Homo sapiens: one gene and its partner. The protein of the gene in region 2 purifies or fractionates together with the protein of the main gene of each other region. This does not show direct contact. Each region holds a gene or a part of one and is shown on either strand. Other genes may lie near its edges. The genes, in order: IGSF8 and TSPAN15.

The links.
Region 1: the proteins of TSPAN15 (region 2) and IGSF8 purify together in Homo sapiens (co-immunoprecipitation; 2 studies listed by BioGRID and IntAct, with this or other methods). This does not show direct contact.

The regions. Positions count from the first base shown.
Region 1 is NC_000001.11:160,090,575-160,095,863, forward strand, and holds the end of IGSF8 (immunoglobulin superfamily member 8 precursor), read right to left. Parts: exon of another isoform or gene 4,847-5,289; intron 4,673-4,846; coding exon 4,295-4,672; intron 3,598-4,294; coding exon 3,136-3,597; intron 2,758-3,135; coding exon 2,350-2,757; intron 2,122-2,349; coding exon 1,708-2,121; intron 1,365-1,707; coding exon 1,249-1,364; 3' UTR 1,234-1,248; intron 1,058-1,233; exon of another isoform or gene 1,035-1,057; 3' UTR 769-1,034; downstream 1-768. UniProt on the Homo sapiens protein: Member of the immunoglobulin superfamily (IgSF) that links tetraspanin-enriched microdomains to the actin cytoskeleton and plays several important roles in innate and adaptive immunity.
Region 2 is NC_000010.11:69,482,465-69,489,464, forward strand, and holds part of TSPAN15 (tetraspanin-15), read left to right. Parts: intron 1-1,226; coding exon 1,227-1,412; intron 1,413-2,676; coding exon 2,677-2,751; intron 2,752-7,000. UniProt on the Homo sapiens protein: Part of TspanC8 subgroup, composed of 6 members that interact with the transmembrane metalloprotease ADAM10.

The DNA of each region.
Region 1 (5,289 bases), on a different chromosome or scaffold from region 2:
AGATGCCTCTTAAGGTGCCGTGCAGGTAAGAATTTTAGGATCAGAGAATCCTTAGGCAAGAAAATTCATGAAACTCCTGGGGCACTGGAGGAGGGGTGAAGCTGAAGGGTGGGAGGGAGGAGACCCCAGGGTAGGTACAGGCAGGTGAAGCGGGTATATGCAGGTGTAGTGGGTATATGCGGGTAGAGGGTATATGCAGGTACAGCGAGTACATGTGGGTGCAATGGCTCTGTGGACACACAGGCCCTCCCCTGACTGCCTGTTGTCCCAGCCTGAGTATCAGTTGTGTTCTGAGGCTTCTATTCTGCTGCTATGGGTCAGAAGGAACAACAATTTCAGCCCCAGGGCCTAGTGGGAGGAGTCAGGTCCAAGACTAGCCTGACCAGGAGAATGAGACGTGGGAAGAGTTGGGGAAAGTCTGGGAAGCTCAGAAAAGGCACTGCCCCTGGAGGCCCATGCCCTTTAACATGGGAGAAGCTGGTGCGGGGGTGACCACAGGCAGCTGGAACCTACCCTCCTTTTCTATGCTTCCCTCCCCAAGTAGGAGTCCAATCAGGAGTTGTCTCAGCCCCGACAGTTCAGGCTGCAGATGGAACCCAGGTGTCCCCTCCTGGGGTGGGTGGCATGGCCCATGGAGGCCAGATGGTGTTTGTGGTGGGAAGAGAGGCCTGGGTCATCCAGAATAGGTTGTCAATCCCCAACCACCTCCCTACTATGCACCCTGAGCGTTTTACAGTCTCATGGTAGGGAAGACACAGCCAAGCCTGCTTTTTATAAAACAAGTTTATTCACATTTTAGAAAAACTAATTCCAGGACAGGAAATGGCCTCCCTATAGGATCCCTAAGAGATCAAGAACAGAAGGCCAGAGGGAGGGGCTTGGGAGGGAAGGAGTGGGGAAGGGGAGGCACGTCTCCCATTCTGGGTAGTGGGAGGTCAAATAAATTAAAGGAAGAGTGGACAGAGGGAGAGGGTGTCCAGGCAACCAGAGGAGGGCTTGGAGCTGGGCCGGAAGACAGTCGACACCTGCAAGACCTGAAAAGGGTGCCCGGTGTGGGCTAAGGACAGAGAGCCCTGAGTGGGGCTCCCTCGCGGCCTCCACCCCTTAACAGGGCCCTGTGGATCTGAGCTGCCTACTCCTCCTCCAGGTGGGGCCTGGGAGGGAGCAGCTTGGTTCAGGACTTGGGGGTGGGAAGCCCAATGAAAACAAGGTTGGGGGGTTCTTTTCCCTCACCTGGGGAGTAAGGGATCACCGTTTTCGAAGCCTCTTCATGAAGCAGCAAGTGATGGTACCAAGGACAGTGGCACCAGTGACTAGGGCCACCCCTGTACCCACCAGCAGAGGCACAAATAGGGTGTCCAGGGCTGGGGGAGAGAGGATGACTGTTCAGAGAGGATGCCATCATCCTCCACCCATACACTTGCCTCTGCGCTTTCCCCATCAAGTTCTCTGAACCCACCTTCTCCATTCACAGACACCCCCATCCCTGCCCACAGCCTGCCCCCTCAGCATGCAAGTCAGCATCAACCACAGAGGACCCCGTGCAGGTGGGCACTGCAGGGCTGGAAGTTGGATTTTTTGAGACTTCATGTGACATAATGTGGAGGAGAGAGATAGTAGCAGGAGGGTCAGAAGATGGGAAGGGAAGGCCAGTGGCAGAGGCCAGGAGGAAGGCAGAGTGAGGAGGGTGGAGGGGGTGTCACTCACCATGCATGTAGGGGTAGACTGTAACAGGCCCTGAGCGGGCACTGCCCGCCTGGTACCAGCTGTAGTCGGCATGCTGCACCCAGGCGCTGGGGGCACAGTGGTACACGCCTTCATCCTCGGGCCCCAAGCTGTGTAGTCTCAGCCGATGGCTTCGGGGCCCCACCAGCTCTACGCTGACAGGGCCTCCTCCAGGCCGGACTCCCAGCTCTGCCACACCATCCTGGCCTACGCCACCCACCAGCTGGGCAGGGACAGAGCTGAGCTCTCCGTCCTCTGGTCGCTCCACCCACCAGCTGGCGGCCAGCCGCAGTCCTGGGGGGCCACCCCGCACAGAGATGTTGCACAGCAGGGAGGCAGTCTCCCCGCGGTACACTGTGCCTCCTGCTAGCCATGCCACAGCCTCCAGCACCACACCTGCAGAACAAAGGACATGGGGTCAGAGGGTGCAGGGCCAGGGAGCATGGGGTTAGGGCTGCCGCCAAGCACCGCCCCAGGAAACTCAGGGTATTCCCACAATCTTGGTAGAAGAGGAGCGTGAGGCTGTGGCCTGCAAACAGCTGACGGAGAGGGAGGGGTCATGGAAACAGAAGGAAAAGGGGTTGACAATCCTCGAACCCCGTCCAGGGCCCAGCCCCCTCTCACCTTCCTCCCGCACATGTACAGGGAGAGGCCGGGAACGGGCACTGGCTGCTTCACGAAGCCGGGTCCCAGACCCTCGAACATAGGCTTTGGCGAGGCAGCGGTAGGTGCCCGCATCACCAGGCCTGGCAGCCTCTAGCCGTAGCCGGTATGTTCTGGATGCCACCTTCTCCATGGCAATGTGTCGGCCCTCATAGCCAGGGCCCAGGCTGCCCACACCCTCTGTGTCCAGCTGGGCTACCAGGCGGCCGGGCCCAGGTGCCCCCGCAGGTGCCATCTCCCAACCTACAGAGTATGCAGCATGACGGCCTGCTGGGGGAAGTGCCCCTGACACATTGCACAGCAGTTCCAAGGGCTCCCCTGGGCCGATCCGACGTTCACCAGGCCCCACTGTCACTGCCAGCTGGCTGGCTGAAACACAGGTAGGGGAAGAGGTGTCATGGAGGCAGGAGGGGACACAGAGGCACCCGATTCCCCAACTTCCTGTTTCCTACTTGACAGCAGCAACTTCAAAACCTCCTGTCTCCCCCTCACTAGGTATGACCATCTTTCTATTTAGGGGCTTGAATCTCACCCCTCAGCATGGGCCTCCTATCTCTATACCCAATTTCTGAGCAGAGAAAACCCATCAAGGGCCGGGGGAGAGAAATGCTAGCAAGGCTGCTCACTCTGTGGAAGATGAGTTCCTTGGAGTCAGATGATGGCTATCTGGTACCCCCTGTGGCCACAGTGCCCACCAGGATACTGTCCCTCCCAGCTCCCACAGTGGGATGTATAAGTGGCACTTACACAGCGTCTGCACATCCACGTGGGCCAGGACGGCCCTTTTCTCTGCAATCTGGGCCCAGCTGCCATCAGGATCCTGAATCCACTCAGCGGCAGTGCAGTGGTAGGTGCCTGCGTCCCCTGCCTGGGCACCCCCTACTACCATGCGGTACCGATCGGTCCCTTCCTTGCCCAGACGAAGCTCCCCTGCAGCCAATCGCTCAGCATAGGGAGCTCCAGCCTCCACGGCCAAGTCTGACCGGATTCCCACCACTTCCTGCAGAGTTGACCGCCCAACTGGTGCCTCGGGCACAGATCGCCCAAAGGACACTGCCAGGTGTGTGTGCTTCTGTGTGCTTGTCCTCGCCAGGCAGCCCAGTGCCAGCTCCTGCCCCTCATGCACCGTCATGCGTGGGGGTGAGGTTGGGGCCTGGCGGCCTCGGGGCCCTGGGGGGGCAGCAGACACCTGGAGGACATCTGGAAGAACTGGAGAGAACAGCTGGAGTGAGGGAGGGCTGGGAGCTGGCAGCCCTTGTTACTGTTTCCTGTGTATAGCCTATCTCCCTAAATAAACTGTGAGCTCCCAGAGGGCAAAGATCGCATGTTGTATTATTTCTTCTGTAACTCAGTGGTGCCAAGGGCAGTACTGGGCACAGCACAGGCGCTCAATAAATACTTGTAGAATTTCATAGAACCAGCCCATCGCCTACTCACCCTTATGTTTGAGACTGACCTCTGTTTGAAATACTGAGAAAAGCGGCTCTTTCTTCTCAGAAGACAAAGAAACTTAAGAGAGTGAGAATGTCACATGGTCTAACTCCTTCCCTAACTCTACTCTCTTTCCCAGATCTGGGTCCTGTACTGTCCAGGAGTAGAGGCTATTCAACCCAACAGTCTTCTTCGTTCTTGGGAATGGAAAGTGGACTGGACAACTTAAGGACATTTCTTCTCCCAGGAGGGGTCTTAATATGATAAGATGAGCACTGGCCTGGGTGAGGAACTCTGGGTTTGAGTCCCACATCAGCCACTGAGTTATTGGGTGACTTTGTGCAAATCACTTAACCTCTTTGGGCCTCAAGTTCCTTGGCTACAAAACCTAAGGGGCAACTAGATAGGTCACTTGTGGCCTTGACTTTCTGCCTTGAGAGGGTGTGTGGCTCCACCCCGTCCCAGGGCCCAGTACCTCTCAGCTCCACCTTGCCGCTGTAGCTGCCCAGGTAGCGGGTATCAGTGGAGGGGGTGTGGCACTCATAAATGCCGGCATCCTGGGCCTGCAGGCGGGCAATCTTGAGCACCACGGCATCACCTTGTAGGCGCTGCACCTGCACCTCACCCGCCACCACTCGGGACTTGAAGACAGCATAGGAGAACTGGGTATCCTTGGTACTGACAATGCCCAGTGCAGTATCTGGGGCCTCGGGCCTATACAGGAACCACTCGAAGTTCTGCTGGGCAGGGCCCTCATAGCCGGTCACATTGCAGGAGATGGAGACAGCTGTGCCAGCCACGCGGTACAAGGGCCCCTCGGGGACCAGCACCTCCCGGGCCCAGCATCCCATTCCTGTAGGGAAAGGCAGAAGGAGTTGGAGATGCCTGGTTCCTCATTCCATGCCCTCTGCCGCCACAAGCACCATTCTTGATCTCTGCCTACAAAAGGAAAGGAGACCTGGGAAAGCTTGTCCACAGCTTGGACCCTGTTCTGAGAATAGGAAAGGGATGCTGTGATATAAGACACCTGGATCTCAAGGAGGTGGCATGGGCCCAGGATTGCCTTGGCATCCAGATGCATCCCATTTCTGGCGGACTAGAAGCAGAGCACCTGAAGGCAGAAAGGAGTACATCTGATTCCTGACCTAACCAGGCCTTGGTTCCAACTGAACCTTGATCTGTCCCTGCCACTCACCCACCTCCATGTCTGCCATTCCTTCCTCAGCACCTGGCAAGGGGAGCCTTCTGGCTAGGGGACTCTGAGACTACATGTCCCTCTCCTTTGCTTGAGGGGAGCTGGCAGTCTTGCTCAGAAGTGCTAGTTGGCTCAGCTGTGTCACCTGGGCGAGACAATGGAGCCAGTGACCCTAGCTGGAAAGGGCACAGGCCCAGTCAGTTCTCACCACACAATGCCCTCCCCTCTCCAGCTGCGCCATGAGCTCACTGCTTCTCTCACCCCACAGGGCTGCC
Region 2 (7,000 bases):
CTGCTCCAACCTTTGGCCTTCTCTGTGGTCATCCTGAAAGTAAATTCCGTGTTATGGTACTGTGTGAAATGTCTGTTGCCCTGAGCACGGGGTGACCTGCCTGTTTAATACGCGTTGTGGCGGCCTCGCACTTCCAGGTTTGTAGTGTTTCCACATTCATTCACTCGCGAAAGCCGTGGTGTGAGCAGTGCAGAAATGAATGTCTTCAAGTCTGTCTTTCAGATGAGAACACAGACTCACATGGTCAAATGCCTGTCCAAGGCCCAGGGTTAGCAAGTAGCAGAGCTGGGGCTCGAACCCATGTTCTCTGACCCTCCAGCCAGTGGCATTTCCCCTAACCCATCTATACTCTCCTCTAAAGTGGCATCTCCAGATTGGGTCTGTAGTAGTCTGCTAGGGCTGCCATAACATCAAGTACCAGACTGAATGGCTTAAACAATAGACATTTATTTTCTCACAGTTCTGGAGGTTAGAAGTCCAAGATCAAGGTGGCAGGGTTGATTTTTTTTTTTTGTTGTTGTTGTTGTTGTTTTTTGTTTTTTGAGACCGAGTCTCGCTCTGTTGCCCAGGCTGGAGTGCAGTGGCACAATCTCGGCTCACTGCAAGCTCCACCTCCTGGGTTCACGCCATTCTCCTGCCTCAGCCTCCCGAATAGCTGGGACTACAGGTGCCCGCCACTATGCCCGGCTGCTTTTTTGTATTTTTAGTAGAGACAGGGTTTCACAGTGTTAGCCATGATGGTCTCGATCTCCTGGCCTCGTGATCTGCCCGCCTCGGCCTCCCAAAGTGCTGGGATTACAGGTGTGAGCCACCGCGCCCGGCCTGCAGGGTTGATTTCTTCCGAGGCTTGTCTCTGGCTTGTAGACGCTGCCTTCTCCCTGCGTGTTCACACAGTCTTCCCTCTGTGAGTGTCTGTGTCATAATCTCTTCCCCTTATAAGGACACCAGTCATATTGGATTAGGGCCACCTTAGTGACCTCATTTTAACTTTAATTAGTTCTTTAAGGGCCCTGTCTCCAAATATAGTCACATTTCGAGGTACTGGGGGTTAGGATTTCAATAGAGAAAATTTGGGGAAACACAGTTCAGCCGCTAACAGGGCCCTTTCTGTGCTGTAACCTGGGGCAAGCCTCCCCCACAGCAGGTACCACAGCCCCAGATGACTCTTTGCTGTAGAAAATCAAGTGACCTCAGTCTCTCTCTCACCCTCTGTTTTCTTGCTGCAGCTGATTGGGGCCCTGGTCCTGTCTGTGGGCATCTATGCAGAGGTTGAGCGGCAGAAATATAAAACCCTTGAAAGTGCCTTCCTGGCTCCAGCCATCATCCTCATCCTCCTGGGCGTCGTCATGTTCATGGTCTCCTTCATTGGTGTGCTGGCGTCCCTCCGTGACAACCTGTACCTTCTCCAAGCAGTGAGTGGACCACACCACCCCTCAGCCGGGACTCCCCAGGAGAGCTGGGGCGCCTGCCCCTGTGCCCTTGGGCAGCTCAGTTTCTTTTGTCCCTGCCTCAAACCACCTCCTTTAGAGAGCTCCTTAGATCAGCCCATCTGACCACACTGGCCCAAGAATGCCCAGGCCACCTCCCCTCCTGCATGTAAAAGCTGATTTGAATACTGTTCTTACTTAAACTCTGTGTTCATCTGGATGCTCAGTTGCGAGTAGGAAAAACCACACTCAAATGAGAGCAAGCAAAGACAAAAAAAGGAGATGGTAGTGAGTCATTAGCTCATGCAACCAGCAAACCCACACTGGGTCCAGGGGTTTAGATGGCGCCACTGGGCAGGGTTGGGCAATCTCCCCAGCCCCTGCCAGCCGGGGCTGCTCCCTTTGCAGTGGTCACTGCCGGCGTCAGGCCAACAAAGTCCTTATGGTTCTAGATCTCAGGAAATCTTTCCTACCAGCTCTGGCCAAAGTCCCAGGACTCTGGTGGGCCTGGCTTGGGCCATGTGCCCATTCTGGGATGGGGCATGGGGAGTCAATCCTACCTGTATCCCATTATTGTGGGGTGAGGGATGACTCCCTAAAGCTGGGGGTAGTGAGTAGGCAGATCCATTCACTCTGCACTTGTGTGTCTCTTGACCTCATTGTCTCCCCTCATATGGGAAGCCCCTACGATCCACTGTAAACCGGGTTTGGGTGCTACTTGAGGCTGGAATTTGCTGAAATCAGTTTGGGTAATGCCTGCTCTCTAGTAAAGGGCAGAGGTGGGGGTGCATATCCTCTAAGCTTCAGCCATCCCCCTCACCCACTGTGGGGGATCTGGGAAGTCACATCTGAGGGCTCTCTGTGGGGAGCTGGACATACTGCCCCAGCCTGCCCATTAAGCCAGGCCTAGCCCCTCTGGCTCAGTGGCAACGAGGCCCAGCTCTCCTTATGGTGGTGGGGGAAGGGCGTGCTCTTCCACATAGACCCCCAAGACAAATGGAGGTAACCATTTGGCTGGGACAGCTGAGTCACTCTTCCTGCCCTCCGGCTCCAGAGACAGGTTTTCCTGGGGCCTGCCTGTCCACGTCCACGTTCTCACAGGAGGAGGGGGCAGAGGCCTAGGAGCTGGTAGGAGCTCCCCGAGGGATGCTTCTCTTTGTGCTTGCTCTTGGAGCAGATGGTGCCTCCCCTGTACCCCACACACGCCCACTGCTCCTCTCCAGGTGAGTCTCTGAATTCTGTTTTCCAGTTCATGTACATCCTTGGGATCTGCCTCATCATGGAGCTCATTGGTGGCGTGGTGGCCTTGACCTTCCGGAACCAGGTGGGCCTGTGGATTTGTGTATCGGCCATGTGTGTATGGAGCACCCACTGTGGGTGCCTTGGGCTAACTGGGGGTATGGCAGTGAGCAGGGCAGATAACCCCCATGGAGCTTTCATTCTGCTGAAAGAGAATGACAGGCACTGAACAAGTAAAGCAGCGACTAAGAAAATGAACCAAGCTGACATGAGAGCGCCTGGGGAGGAGATGGGAGGCCCGTGCTGAAATGGTAAAAGGAGCCAGCTGAGTGAGGTCCCAGCAGAGGGAAGCTGAGCAGAAATGAGCTTAGCATGTGAGCAAAACAGCGTGGAGGCCACGTGGCTGAGGGTAGGTGGGGTGGAGAGGGGTGGAAGGTGAAGTCGAAAGGGCTGGCCAGGCAGATCACAGAGGTCCTTGTAGGCCATGAGTTGGGAGCTTGGAGTTTTTTCTAGAGGTGACAGGAGCCTTTGGAGAGTCTTATGTGGGAAGCGATGTGACCCAGTTTATATTGTACCATGGCTGCTGAGTTGGGGAATGGACAGTGAAGAGTTGAGGGTGTACACAGGGGCCCAACTGGGAGGCTGTGGGGGGTCATCCTGGGAATGGGGTAAGATTGCTTGTACCAAGGTGGAGGCAGTGGGCCTGGGCCAAAAAGGCGATTTGATGTATATTTTGGAGGCAGTACCATCAGAGGCTGTTATGCCGGCTAGAGGAGTGAGGAGAGGGGCAGGTTGACAGGGTGATGCCTGGCATCCTGGCCCTGGCAGGGTTTGCAGAATCCGGGCCCCTTAGAGCCAGAAAGGTTCTCGTGGCTCCCGGCTCCAGCTCCTTCAGGCAGGATGTACGCACCTCATACTAGCTGTGCCACCTTGGGCGAGTTACTTGGCCTCTTGGATTATTAGGGGACACCTAGCTCACAGATCTGATGAGAGAATGCCTGTGAAGGACTGGGCACGGTTCTGGCACATAGTGGTCAAGGCCCCACAAGAAGCTGGTGGTGGAGCAGGGCTGACTCCAACCCAGGGCTCCATCTTTCCTCCCATAATCTTCTTCCTTGTCCTCATCCTGCATTGCTGCCATAGGTGGGGCTTGAGGAGCAGGACATGTTTGCAGAAGCCCCATTCTCTGTGTCCACTGCCTGGCCTGTACCCCTCCCTACCCCAGACAGCTTGGTCCTGGTGCATCTGGACAGTTGCTGCTGGGACATGCGTCAGAGCTGTGAGCCAAGTTATCTTTTTTTTTAAAAATAATGTTTGTTTATTTTTTTGAGACAGGGTCTCACTCTGCCACCCAGGCTGGAGCAGTGGTGCAGTCATAGCTCACTGCAGCCTCGAACCCCTGGGCTCAAGTGATCCTCCGGCTTTAGCCTCCCAAGTAGCTGGGACTACAGTCATGCACCCCTGTGCCCAGCCAAATTATCTTTCTTTTCAGCAGTTGCTCTTAAGGCAGCAGGTGCTGTCCCACACCCTGGGTTGTGCAGACCTCTCAGATGGCCCAGGATCTGGCCCTGTGAAAATGTTCATGGGAGTGCCTGTGATTCCAGCCCAGGTGGGAGCAGGGACCACACCAGTTCTGCTGGGGCCTCCTGCAGTGGGACCTAACCACAGGCAAGTCTACAAACCTGGAATCCAGAGGTCTTCCTGTTTTATGAGCCCCAGGAAAGGGGCTTTATTCCATTTGCCCATGAGGCTGCTTCTCCCTTTTCCTCTTTTCTACCTGCCCCTCCCTTTGCCTCTTTTCTGCTTATCAGAGCCTCTCTTCTGAGCTGGCAGATCCAGCATGCTGGTTCACTTTCCAGCAGCCTTGAGGGGAGAGATCTTTATTCCATTTGCCCATGGGGCTGCCTTTCTGTGCAGCCACCAGAGCTCCTGGCCAGCCTGCGGCTTTCCAGGGGCTACGGGTTAGTGCTTTCCTGGCTGGAGCCCAGGTCCAGTTTGTGGCCAACTAAACAGACTCCTGGATATAAGGAGGAATCTCCACCAGCCCGTGACCCCGGGCATGGTTTCTGCTGCTAGGCATGGCTTGACAGTCAGACTGAAGTGGCTTCTCCACTCATACAGGGGCAAGTGGCCATCCTATCAATGGAGTCATGGAGGCACACAGGAGTTAAGAATTCCCCCGAGAGCACACAGCAAGGCAGAGGTGCCTCAGGAATGCTTCCCAGTCCTGACTTGCTACCTGCCCCTCCCTGTCCCTCTTTTCTATTTGTCAGAGCCTCTCTTCTGAGCTGGCAGATCCAGGATGCTGGTTTACTTTTCAGCAGCTGTGAGGGGAGAGATCTTTATTCCATTTGCCCATGGGGCTGCCTCTCTGTGCAGCCAGCAGAGCTCCCGGCCGCCCTGAGGCTTTCCAGGGTTAGCACTTTCCTGGCTGGAGCCCAGGTCCAGTTTGTGGTCAGCAGCGTCCACGGCCTTCATAAACTATCCTCCAATGATGGGCAGCAGTTCTGGTTTCTAGTGCATTGCTGCAGAGGCCATCTGATTTGTCATTTTCCAGTGCCCTGTAGGTCAACAGAACATCACCTCCTTCTTTCAAGTGATGGAGCTGGGCTGAGATGAAGGCTTTGGCTGGCGGAACATCCAGGGGCCCTTCAGTGCTCACAGCTTGGGTTTCCGTGGGCCTGAGGTCAGGCCTGACAATTTCTCATCATCCCCAGACCCTGCAGATGCTGTAGTCCGTGAAGGGTGCTCCTTCCCCTTGGGTGGTGTCCCCTCATGGGTAGGGCCTTGGTATGCAGCCCAGGAAGGGTCCTCACTGACGCCTCTCCGCTGTTTGGAGGCTCAAGCCATGATTCGTCATCTTGAAAACTTAAAAAATGAGATACAAAATTATAAATGCAGTAAGATCGCTACAATGAAAAAAATAGGTCTACAAAAAGACTTAAAGGAATGGAAATATCAGCATATGAACTCATATTTCCTCTGAGGGATGAGACTAGGGTGATTTTTCTCCTCCCCTTTATATTTTTCCTTGGCTCTCAATTTTTTTTTATAATCAAGGGGAAAATATCACAAAAAGAAAAATAATATCCCTTCCAACTCTAATGTGATATGATTTTGTAAAACAGGAGTCAGGCCAGTGGCGGGGATGGGGGAGGAGCGGCCTGGCTGTTGATGATGGTAGGAAGGGCAGTGTATGATGGAGAAAAAGGTGAGGAGCAATCAAGGTCAGCTTCCAGGAGGAGGTGATTTCCCAATTCCATTTTTCCCTGATCAAGAGGATTTCTCTGAGCCACAATGTAACAAGTTCAGTCTCCAGTGCCATGGGCCCTGGTAACTCTGAGTATCTACTTATGAAAAGTCAGAACAAGTCATTAGGTATTGGGGGAACCCACCCCCAATATTTCACCATAGGTTCTTTCTATTTTCCATAAGTGTCAGCCAGCTGAGAAATAAAGAGAAAGAGTACAAAGAGAGGAATTTTACAGCTGGGCCGCTGGGGGTGACGTCACATTATCAGTAGGACCATGATGCCCACCTGAGCCTTAAAGCCAGCAAGTTTTATTAAGGATTTCAAAAGGGGAGGGGGTGCAAGAACAGGGAGTAGGTCACAAAGATCACATGCTTCAAAGGGCAAAAAGGAAAACAAAGATCACATGCTTCTAAGGGAAAAATCAGAAACTCCTCATAAGGGTCCAACAAAGATCACAAGGCAAAGGGCAAAAGCAAAGATCACAAGGCAAAGGGCAAAAGCAGAATTACTGATAAGGGTCTACCTTCAGTGGTGCACATATTGTCTTGATAAACATCTTAAACAACAGAAAACAGGGTTCGAGAGCAGAGAACCAGTCTGAACTCAAATTTACCAGGGTGGAGTTTCCCAATCCTGAGGGTACTGCAGGAGACCAGGGTGTATTTCAGTCCTTATCTCAACTGCATAAGAGAGACACTCCCAGAGCGGCCGTTTATAGACCTCCCCCTAGGAATGCAGTTCTTTTCCCAGAGTGTTAATATCAATATTCCTTGCTAGGAAAAGAATTTAGCGATATCTTCCCTACTTGCATGTCCGTTTATAGGCTGTCTGCAAGAAGAAAAATATGGCTCTTTTTGCCCAACCCCGCAGGCAGTCAGACCTTATGGTTGTCTTCCCTTGTTCCCTGAAAATCGCTGTTATTCTGTTCTTTTTCAAGGTGCACTGATTTCATATTGTTCAAACACACATGTTTTAAAATCAACTTGTACAGTTAACACAATTATCGTAGTGGCCGTAAGGTGACATACATCCCCAGCTTACGAAGATAACAGGATTAAGAGATTAAAGTAAGACAGGTGTA